Homo sapiens: one gene and its partner. The protein of the gene in region 2 interacts with the protein of the main gene of each other region in a biochemical or structural test. Each region holds a gene or a part of one and is shown on either strand. Other genes may lie near its edges.

What was found.
Region 1: the proteins of ARFGEF1 (region 2) and MYO9B form a complex in vitro, tested with the Homo sapiens proteins (one study listed by IntAct).

The regions. Positions count from the first base shown.
Region 1 is NC_000019.10:17,078,665-17,085,957, forward strand, and holds part of MYO9B (unconventional myosin-IXb), read left to right. Parts: intron 1-7,293. UniProt on the Homo sapiens protein: Myosins are actin-based motor molecules with ATPase activity. Unconventional myosins serve in intracellular movements. Binds actin with high affinity both in the absence and presence of ATP and its mechanochemical activity is inhibited by calcium ions.
Region 2 is NC_000008.11:67,197,128-67,201,044, reverse strand, and holds the end of ARFGEF1 (brefeldin A-inhibited guanine nucleotide-exchange protein 1), read left to right. Parts: intron 1-531; coding exon 532-649; coding exon of another isoform or gene 650-859; exon of another isoform or gene 860-1,155; intron 1,156-1,946; coding exon 1,947-2,111; 3' UTR 2,112-3,387; downstream 3,388-3,917. UniProt on the Homo sapiens protein: Promotes guanine-nucleotide exchange on ARF1 and ARF3. Promotes the activation of ARF1/ARF3 through replacement of GDP with GTP. Involved in vesicular trafficking.

The DNA of each region.
Region 1 (7,293 bases), on a different chromosome or scaffold from region 2:
TTCCAGCAAGTTTCCTCGGAAGTAGTGGCTGGCCCCAGGTCAAACCTGGAAAGATACCACGTGTTAAACCACTCCGGGTGGAAGGGATTGCACAAGCAGATACCTTTGAAGCCCGGCCTGTACAGGGCATCCCAGCTCTCTCATTCTGCCAACCGGCAGTGCGAGGGTCCTTGTTCTTATCTTCCTGATACAGAAACAGGCCCAGGCAGGTGATGACTTCAGAGATGGTTCCTTGAGCTTTCTAGAAACATGCAGGATCCTTAGTAACCTTTAACTGGGGAAACCCAAATCTCCAGGGCCGTTTCTCACCCGCATCACCATTGACAGTTGGGGCTGTGCACTGTAGAATGTGGAATAGTGTCCCTGGCTGTCACCCATGAGATGCCAGTAGTATTCCATCCCCTCCAAGGGGTAACAACTGAAAATGACTCCAGCCATGGCCACGTGTCCCCTGGGGGCAGAATCACCTCCCCCGCCAGGTGAAATGTGATGCTCATTAGTAAAACCTGGTTCCCCTCTAGGGCCCATCATTGCCTTGGTGGGTCCTTGGTGTTTGTGGAGCCCCTGAGGAACTGCCACTAAGAGTGGGAACAGGGGCAGAGACCAGGAACTGAATCCTGCCATCCAGTCAGTTCTTAATCAGGAGGGAGCGGGTCTTGATAAAAAGGAGGAACCGTTAGGAACGGACTGTGGGAGGGTAGGCAACGTGCCCGAGGGTGGACAGCGGGTGCCCTTGTCTTTTCTTTGTCTTGTGACTGACCTGGATTTCTGGAGGAACTGTCCTCGTCTTAGAATGATCTGTTGCTTTTCTTCTGAGATTAGAGGTATTAGATTCTCTCCCAAGAGCTACTTTGGAGGTTGCCCCGGATAAACGTCGCTTTTGTAAGCTGCATTATCTCTTCCATGGGCCCTTTCGCCCGCCCGTTCCCAAGCACATACTGCTGAATTTTTGTTCTTGGTCCATCTTGCTGTCCCCTTCCCTGCTTGGCCCCCTCCTTGACCGTGACTTTGCTGCTTTACCTTGATTGGAGGAGACGCTCTGGGGCCACGGGACTGACGGTCCCTTCTGGGTGCTGCCCCCACACCCCACCCACCAGCCCTTTGTGTGCCCGGCATCCCCAGCCCAGCTGTGCCAGGCTGCCCCTGCTCGGCCGGCCATTCAGACGGCCCCAGGCGGCCTCTCGGCAAAGCAAGACAAGCCCTTCTCTTCTGCCCTCGTGGTCCCTGGAGTGGCAGAACAAAGGGCTCTGTCTCCACACCAGCCCACCGCCGCAGCCCAGAGCCCCGTTCCCTTTCAATTTCTATCGTGGCTGGGAAAGAGCCTCAGAGATTAGGCATGTTTCAGAAATGCAGCTGACGAGTTTGGGTTCTACTCATTTCCTCAGCGAGACTTTCTGAGCCCGAGCCCGATGATAAATAAAGTAGTGATTCAAGGGTTCAGCCCATGGGTTCGTCGGAGTGATGAATAAGATATCCTTGTCTGACTCACTTGTTTAAAACCCATCTCTGCCCTGCTGCACAGGGCTGTATGTGCAAGAGAAGGAGCCCCGCTAGGGGTGTTTCATGACTGTTGTTGCTGGGTGCCTGAGTTTGCTAGGGCTGCTGTAACAGAACCGCACGCTGGGTGGCCAGAACGACAGAAGTATATTGGCTTGCAGTTCTAGAGGCCAGACGTTTAAGATCACATTCAAGATCAAGGTGTTGGCAGGGTTCGTGCCTTCGGAGGGCTGTGAGAATCTGTTCCACGCCTCTCTCTGTTGGCTCATACATAGCCGTCTTCCCCTGGGTCTTCACATCGTCCTCCCTCTGTGCCTGTCTCTGTGTCCAAATTTCCTCTTATGAGGACAGCAGTCATATGGAAGGGGGCCCACCCTAATGACATCATTTTAACTGAATCATCCCCATAAAGACCCTGTCTCTAGGCGAGGCTTGGTGGCACACGCCTGTAATCTCAGCCCTTTGGGAGGCTGAGGCAGGAGGATCACTTGAGGCCAGGAGTTTAAGACCAGCCTGGACAACATAGCAAGATCCCATCTCTACAAAAAAATACTAAAATTAGCTAGACATGATGGTGAATGCCTGTGGTCCCAGCACTTTAAGAAGCTGAGACAGACAGATCGCTTGAGCCTGGGAGTTTGAGGCTACAGTGAGCTATGATCATGGCACTGCATTCCAGCCTGGGTGACAGAACGACACCCCCATCTCTTAAAAAAAAAAAAAATCCCAAATATACTCATACTCTGAAGTTCTGAGGTTTAGGATTTCAATATGTGAATATTTCTTTGTGGAGGGGAGTGGTGGACACAGCTCAGCCCATAATACTGAGAAAAGGACAAATTCAAATTACATTTTTATTTATTTGTTTATTTATTTTGGGGGCGGGGGCAGAGTCTCACTCTGTCACCCAGGCTGGGGTGCAGTGACGCGATCTCAGCTCACTGCAACCTCTGTCTCCCAGGTTCAAGTGATTCTCCTGCCTCAGCCTCCCGAGTAGCTGGGACTACAGGCGTGCGCCACCACGCCCAGCTACTTTTTGTATTTTTAGTAGAGATGGGCTTTCATTGTGTTGACCAGGCTGGTCTTAAACTCCTGACATCAGGTGATCAGCCCGCTCGGACTCCCAAAGTGCTGGGATAACAGATGTGAGCCACCGTGCCCGGCCTCAACTTACATTTTTAGATAATATAGGAACCTGGAGGGAAATGATCGTGTCAATAGAGAATAGGTCCATTTTGTCTCTTCTCACTCCTTTAAATAAACACTTTAAGGGTGAGCAGGTTGGTTGGCCACATCAATTTTGGACGCTCCCTGTTTTCCAGATCTCACACTCATACATTCAGGGGTGACTAAAGAGAGGTGAGAGGCCTGGTGCAGTGGCTTACGCCTGTAATCCCAGCACTTTGGGAGGCCGAGGTGGGAGGATCACCTAAGGTCAGGAGTTTGAGACCAGCCTGGCCAACATGATGAAACCCAGTCTCTACTAAAAATACAAAAATTAGCTGGGTGTAGTGGCACACACCTGTAATCCCAGCTGCTTGGGTGGCTGAGGCAGAAGAATTGCTTGAACCCAGGAGGCAGAGGTTGCAGTGAGCCGTGATCTTGTGCCACTGCACTCCAGCCTGGGCAAGAGAGTAAGATCCCATCTCAAAAAAAAAAAAAAAAAAAAGAGGCGAGGACCCAGCCCAGGGCGGAGTGGGTCCCATGGGATTTTACAGGGGATGTGTTGAGGGCCAGGTCCACAAGGCTGCGTGTGCCTGGTGGGGAAGCAGGATGAAGTTTACAAACAGGGCATGGGGCGGGGGTATATCTCTGTTCTCAGTATTGCCAGGGTCAGGGGCAAGGAATATCCAAAAGTAACTACACTCTTGGACCCAAGTGACCTTAGGACCAACTGCTGTCACAAGTGATTGAACAAAAGAAGTTTCTGGAAGGTCTTAAAATCCTTCAGCAAAAAGGAAGTATTGGCTGGGAGCCAGGCTCAGAGCTGGCCCTTGGGGAGACTGAGGAGAACAGAAATAGCCCTCGCCTCTGTTCAGATGTTCAGCCAGGAGTCACGAGCATGGAAGTCAAATTAACAGCCCAGTGGGGTCTGTGAAGGTGCCGGCAGCAGGCGAGCCTGTGACGGGAGCCTGCCTGGCCTGGGGACTCGCTTATGGGGGAAGTGGGAGACCTGAGAGCTTCCCCAGTCAGCCGTGCCCTGGGTCTTCTGCCTGCGAGGTGGGCACCGCTGCTTCCTCACGAGTGAAGTCACAGCAGCACAGCAGCAGTGGGAGGCTCAAGGCTTTGCTGTGGATCTTCCTGGGCTCACTGCTCAGAGCATCTCCACGAGGAGGCGTCTGCCACCTCCTGCATCCCATTCCAGGGCAGACGAGATCGGGGGCAGGAGGGTGACATTTGAGATTTTGATTCCCAGGGTATGGGTACTCACGTGGGGCTTTAATTTCCTGGTGAATGTGCCATGGGGGGCAAGGGGTAGCTTGCCCACTGCTTGGGAAGACCCCTGGGGTCCTTGTCTTGTCACGTGGAGATGCTGTTTATTGGGTAGGCACAAGAACAAGAGAGGCGGAGAAAGTGTGATCGTACTTATTTGGCCCATAGGTGCCGTGGAAACTGGTTCCTTTCCCCTGGGTGGTCCCTCGGGAGTCAGGCCCATGATTTAGCAGGGAAGGGAGAAGGTAAGGGTTGGGGTGTCCTGGAGTGCAGAAAGTGGCCTGAACCGGGGCAGGTACGTCCTCAAGGCTGGCTCCCTCTTGCACTCCGCACTCTCAATATCCTGCAGCCAAGTGAGCGTGGGGTTGGAACCATGCTAACATGTCAAGTGCCCGTGGGTCCTCGAGGAGGCTGAAAGTGTGTGAATCTTGCTTTTTTTTTTTTTTTTTTTTTTGAGACAGGGTCTCACTCTGTCACCTAGGATAAAGTGCAGAGGCATGATCTTGGCTCACTGCAGGCTTGACAACCTCCCTGGGCTCAAGTGATCGTCCTACCTCATTCTCCCTAGTAGCTTGGGACTACAGGCTGTCACCACCACGCCAGGCTAATTTTTGTATTGTTTATAGAGACAGGGTTTCACCATGTTGCCTGGTCTTGAACTCCTGGGCTCAAGTGATCACCCGCCTCAGCCTCCCAAAGTGCTGGGATTACAGGCGTGAGCCACCACGCCCAGCCACTTTTCTGATTGATTTAAAGCATATCTTCTCAGCTGCAGCATTGGTGACATTGGGGGCAGATCATTCTCTTGGGTAGCAGCTGCCGTCTGCACTGTAGGGTGTTGAACAGCATCCCCGGCCTCCACCCTTCAGATGCCAGTAGCACCCCCTGCTCTGTGTCTGGATAACCAGAAATGTCTCCAGACATGGCCAAGTGTCTCCTGGAGGGCAGAGTCAGCTCTGGGTGAGAAACACTAGTTCCGGGTTCTGTTGACTCCTAAGTGACTTTGCGTCTGTCATCATCTGACTGACCGAAGTCCTAGGATGCTGCCCTCTTTTTTTTTTTTTTTTTTGAGACTGAGTTTCGTTCTTGTTGCCCAGGCTGGAGTGCAATGGCACGGCCTCGGCTCACTGCAGCCTCCACCTCCCAGCTTCAAGTTACCGATTCTCCTGCCTCAGCCTCCCAAGTAGGTGGGGTTACAGGCACCCGCTACCACGCCCAGCTAATTTTTATATTTTTAGTAGAGATGGAATTTCACCATGTTGGCCAGGCTGGTCTTGAATTCGTGACCTCAGGTGATCCACCCACCTCAGCCTCCCAAGGTGCTGGGATTGCAGATGTGAGCCACCATGCCCAGCCCGCACATTTAAATACACAAAGTGAATGGGGAAGGAGAGAGGAGAGAAATCAGAGAGGCTAGGTGGATTCTCCTGGTTAATAACCCTTTGGGTTAATAACCCTTTGGGGGCCAAGTGATTACATGCCTGTAATCCCAGCACTTTGGGAGGCGGAGGTGGGAGGATCCCTTGGGCCCAGGACTTCCAGACCAGCCTTGGCAACATAGTGAATCCCCGTCTCTACAAAAAAGATACAAAAATTAGCCAGGTATGTTGACACATGCCTGTGGTCCCAGCTACTCAGGAGGCTGAGGCCGGAGGATCACTTGAGCCTGGGAGGTTGAGGCTGCAGTGAGCCAAGATGGTGCCACTGCACTCCAGCCTGGGTGACAGAGTGAGACTCATCTCAAAAAAAAAAAAAATTATTGGGAATGTATTCTGTGTATTCTGGTATTTAGTGTGAGGAAAGAATCAATTTTTTTCCAAATAATTAATGTAGGGTCTCTCACCCTCAGCACTGCTGATATTTGTGGCTGGGTCCCTCTCTGTGGTGGGACCCTGAGCACCACGGGGTGTGGACCAGCATTTCCAGCCTCAACCTTCTTCATGTTGGTAGCATCCTCCCTGTCCCAACAACCCTTAATATGTCTCTGGGCCAGGCGCAGTGGCTCACATCTGTAATCCCAACACTTTGGGAGGCTGAGGCAGGCAGATCACTTGAAGCTAGGAGTTTGAGACCAGCCTGGCCAACATGGTGAAATCTTGTGTCTACTAAAAATACAAAAAAAAAAAAAAAGAAAAAAAGAAAAACACACACACACACAAAATTAGCCAGGTATGGTGTGGTGCACCTGTAATCCCAGCTACTTGGGAGGCTGAGGCAAAACAATCGCTTGAACCCGGGAGGTGGAGGTTGCAGTGAGCCAAGATCATGCCACTGCACTCCAGCCTGGGCAACAGAGCAAGACTCTGTCTCAAAGGGAAAAAAACATGTCTCGGGACAGAGGTTGCCAAGTGTCCCTGAGGACAGAGTCAGCTCCAGGGGAGAAACAATGATATAGAAGAACACCAAGCTTTTGAGGGGCAAGCAGAGCCTGTTGAGACCTACAGGTCAAGCCCGTGACTGGCCTGAGGTGACTTCTTTCTCCCCTGCCTTTGTGGTGTGATCACCAGGGTCCCTGGCACAGGGATGAGCTTCAAGGGGAGCTGGGGAGTGGCTGTTTCACCGAAGACACTGGTGGCAGCAAATCCTGAGACCATTGTCCCCCACCATCCAGTTCCGCTCTCAGGTGATCAGAAAATGGAACGAGCTCCCTGTGTCCTTTGTAGAAACCAGGCAGAGGGTGGGTTTCATGGCCAGGAGGAGGAGCATCTGTCTGAAGGCCGCAAGGGCTGGGTCACAGATGGGCAGCATTGGGAGATCCTGGCAGGCAGAGAGCACTCCACGTGGAAACTAGAAGCATGGGGCAGATGGGGGGCCAGGTAGCGAGCCACCTAGGCAGCTCAGCAGATGTGGAGAATGGGAATAAACTTGGGGGGTCTTTGGGGGAATCAGTGGGATAGGTGATAGCTAAAAGGTACAGGGTTTCTTTTTAAGGTGATGTAAATGTTCTAGCCAGGGGCAGTGGCTCATGCCTGTAATTCCAGCTCTTTGGGAGGCTGAGGCAGGAGAATCACTTGAGCCCAGAAGTTTGAGACTGGCCTGGGCAACATAGGGAGATCCCGTCTTTAATAAAAAAAAAAAAAAATTGAAAAATTTACCGAATGTGGACTTGCACCTGTAGTCCCAGCTACTCCAGAAGCTGAGGTGGGAGGATTACTTGAACCCAGGAGTTCGAGACCGGCCTGGGCAACATAGGGAGACCCCTGTTCTTACCCTGGGGATGGCTTTCCTCCGGGCGTGACGACAGATGAGCTGTGTGATTGCACAGCAGGATACAAGGGTTTTTCCTCTGCCCTTCCAGACCCGCGTCCCTGGCTGCCCTCCCTATCTTCGTTACAAGCCCACAGGTCACCCGAGAAGGACCTG
Region 2 (3,917 bases):
CATGCCATTCAGAAAGAATACGGTCATCTGCATTGTATTATCATATCTACTTACGGAATAGATGTTCTGAGGCCAATTAAATACATTTTAGAATTTTAAGGGATCACCTAGTCTCTGTTATCCCATTTGATTGACAAGACTGATTGATTAAGGCCCCACAGGGCCTTGTGATCTAGGGCCTCACAAGGGTCAGTGAAGAGAGGAGTCGCCTCAGATTCCAGTCCAGGTCTCTTGAAACTAAGCTTTGCATGTGCCACCTGCCACACGGCAGCTTTGCATTGAAAGAAACTTAGAAAATTAGGAAAATGTGGGTTTCCTGGTAAGTTACAATGGCTTCTTTTAACATGTTTGGTTTTCTTCCCAATTTGAAAAGCATGTTTATGTTGACACTCCAGCTAATGTAAACAGATGGGATCTAACATGTTCTTGAATAGTTCATATTCACTACTATGTTCATGATTGCTCTTTCTCGGTGAATATGGGGACCAGTAGATACGCAAGTAACATTAAAGGAAACCTTTTCTTTTGCAGTGTCTGCAGTGAAGCACTAAGTTACTTCCTCACTCTAACATCAGAAAGTCATCGAGAAGCCTGGACTAACTTACTGCTTTTGTTTCTAACTAAAGTTCTAAAGATAAGTGATAATAGGGTAAGTATGAGGCTTCGAATCCAGCCCCACATTTCTAGCCCAATTCGCATTGGGATGCGGGGTCCCAGAGCCGCCGTGCAAGAGCTCTCAGAGATGAATCAAGCAGTGCCCAGGCTGCACTGCTGCTTGTGCAAAGCCACCAGTGGCCTTGCTGTATCTTCCTCAGTCCTTGCTTTTCTCCCCCCTTACCCAGCTTTGTTCACTAATTAGCAGTTCTCTAGGGGATTCAGTAGGCGAGGGATCAGAATCCCTTGGGATACCTTGACAAGTTCCCATTATGACCCCAGGAATCTCCCCCTTTGCCCCATTTTGAAAACTGCTGTCCAACCACCTCATGGCCTTGTACTCTGCCTACTACTCAAGACTACATCTGGTTCCTGGGCCTGTGCTCTGGGCTGCAGCTGTTCCTTTGGCATATTTAGTGGTTCCAGGTAACCCAGAGTCCCTAGTGAATGGGCCTCATCTAAGAATTTTAAACCAGTAGAAATAAAGATAAAATACACATATATGACTGTAAATATAAGTGCATATTTAAGGTTTTCAAAAATGTACACTCTATTCTTAGAAAAAAAAATAGCAACTTACAGCTCACACATACAGGCTGCTTTGCTGTGACCCTAGAATAGGTTTAAAAATGCCTAGTGATGTGGCCCACTACTTGAAAGGCCAAGGGCTCTAAATCCCAGCCTCTGTTACTCCACAGCTGGCTTTTTTTTTTTTGGTCATAATATGTCTCACTGCTTCCCTGGATCTGGAGGGGTACAGAAGGGGTAGGAAAGGAGGCTGCAGACTAGAGTTCAGAGATGAAGGAACTACTGTGAAGATACAGCCAAAGTATAGCAATTGAACTGTACATGTGAAACGTATGTAGCTTTGCCTGAAGAACTGTTTAGATTTTATATTGCAGTGTTGGGTAGAATTTTCCCCAAAACTTAAAATTTTTATGTAACAAAAGATAAAATTTCAGTAACCCATAGCTTATAAAATCTCAACTCTAGTTTGTACTCACTTGCCTGCTGCTTATTACCCAGGAAAAACAGTGCTAAATTACTAAAAGTTTGTCAAAGATATACAGACAAATGTTTTTCAAAATAAGGATATGTAAGTGAATAGTGTTTGTATGAAGTGAGTTTTTCTAACACTTCTGTCTCTCAGTTCCACAAACCAGAGTCACTGCCTGCTGTGGACCCTGCTTTCCTGGCTCCTGTGATGGAGCCCCAGAGTAGTTTGACTCTAGGCAGTTTAAGGCTCTGCAGTTTGCAATCACTACTAATGGAGAAATTCATTTTCCCTGCAGTTTAAAGCTCATGCATCATTCTACTACCCTCTCTTATGTGAAATTATGCAATTTGACTTGATTCCTGAACTTCGTGCTGTTCTTAGAAGATTTTTTCTGCGAATCGGAGTAGTTTTTCAGATATCACAACCACCTGAACAGGAACTTGGAATAAACAAGCAATGATGGGAACTTAATATTTTTGTTGGCATTTACATCCCTCTGCTCTTTAAAAGGACGCTGGAGCTGAGGTTTCCTACCTGAAAAATGATTTCTCTGGATTGCAGTGTCTGAGTTACTGGTAAAGATGCTTAGAAGTCTTACTCAAACTTGCAACACTCCAGTCCCTTTTAGTGCTGGTGGATTTTGTGTGTTATATTGGCCTCATGTTGAGCAGAAAGCCTGTTTAAACAGTGTCAGCTCATGCTCACGGGTCCTTCCCTGTCTTCCACGGCAGGAAAAGCCCCACGTTTTTGGCAGGTGTGGAAGTGAAACTTACCCAAAGAACTATAGATGTAAAGATTGAACTTCTACAAGAAGTACAACTCAGGAGAGCTGTATTTTGAAGGATAAAATGTTTATAATTGGGGAGTGGGGAGAGAAGAAGAAATTATTGTTCATGGTAAAAGATATTTAGCAACTATGGTATTCTTATTCTGAAGATTTTTGCACACTCAGGCTATCTGAGATACTGGTAATCATCCTGTGAAAAATGTACAGAGATGCAGGTCTGTAATATAAAAATCTTAAAACATTATATAGTTCTTCCTGCACTGTTTTCTTTATTTTCTTATTCATTTGCTAAATACCCATAATATTTTGTCAAATGCACTAAACATTTGGGTGGAACTTTCTTTTTTATTTTATAGGGATTTTTAGTTTTGCCCTTTTTGGTAGGTGGTGATTTTGAGGCTGTAACATGCCCAGAAGCTGTTGTGGCCGACACTTCAACAATAGGGAAAAAAAGGTAGAAAATATCCCTACTGACAGTAACTACCTGTCACATATTTCTCTTAGGACTTTTAAAGATGAGCCATTAAAATAGAATGATCCTTTATGGACCAAAACTTGAATCACTGCAAAATGAATCCAGATTGCTGTCATTTTCTTTTCTTTTGGGTGGTGGGGCTTGATGTAGATTTTACTCTATGTACAGAATTTAACGTTGAATATATTAAAATAACAAATCTGGCATGGTTTGCGGAGGTTAGATTTACTGGAAATGTATTCATACTGTGAATTGTGCTCTGATGGTTAAAAGACAAGATTGTCAAGCATTCCGTATTAACAGTGGATGTAGAAAATTTTTTCAGATGGACAAAATGTATATGGTACAGATGTAAAGTTTTCTATGTAAAAAATTCTGTACAACTTTCTGTACAATATTGATTCCCATCTGGCATATTCTAATCAGGTTATAGGTCAATAAAGTTTTTGAATTATTTCATCAGTGCAATCAAAACCTGTATAACCCACCCCCATGTTTCATTGATTCTGGTCTATTAAGGCTGAACAACTATGGAAAAGACATTTTCAGCCAGAACTACAAATTCAATATTGTTTGGTTCTGGTATTTTCTTTCCAGCTTCTAGCATTAGATCCTCCTTACACTGTACTTACCATAGGATACTTATTTTTAAGGCAATTTTTAAAATTTTTATTTATCTTTTAGAGACCGGATCTCACTCTGTTGTCCAGGCTGGAGTGCAGTGGTATGAGCACAGCTCACTGTAGCCTCAAACTGGGCTCACGATTCTCACACTCCACCCTCCCCAGTAGTGAGGACTGTAGGCACACACCACTACACTTGCCTAATTAAAAAAAAATTTTTTTTTTTTAGAGATGGGATCTCACTATATTGCCCAGGCTGGTCTCAAACTCTTGGACCTGAAGTGATCCTCCCAACTCAGCCTCACAAAGTGCTGGGATTATAGGCATGAGCCACCATATCCAGCCCAAAAATCTTTTAATATTTTTTGCATATTAATAACC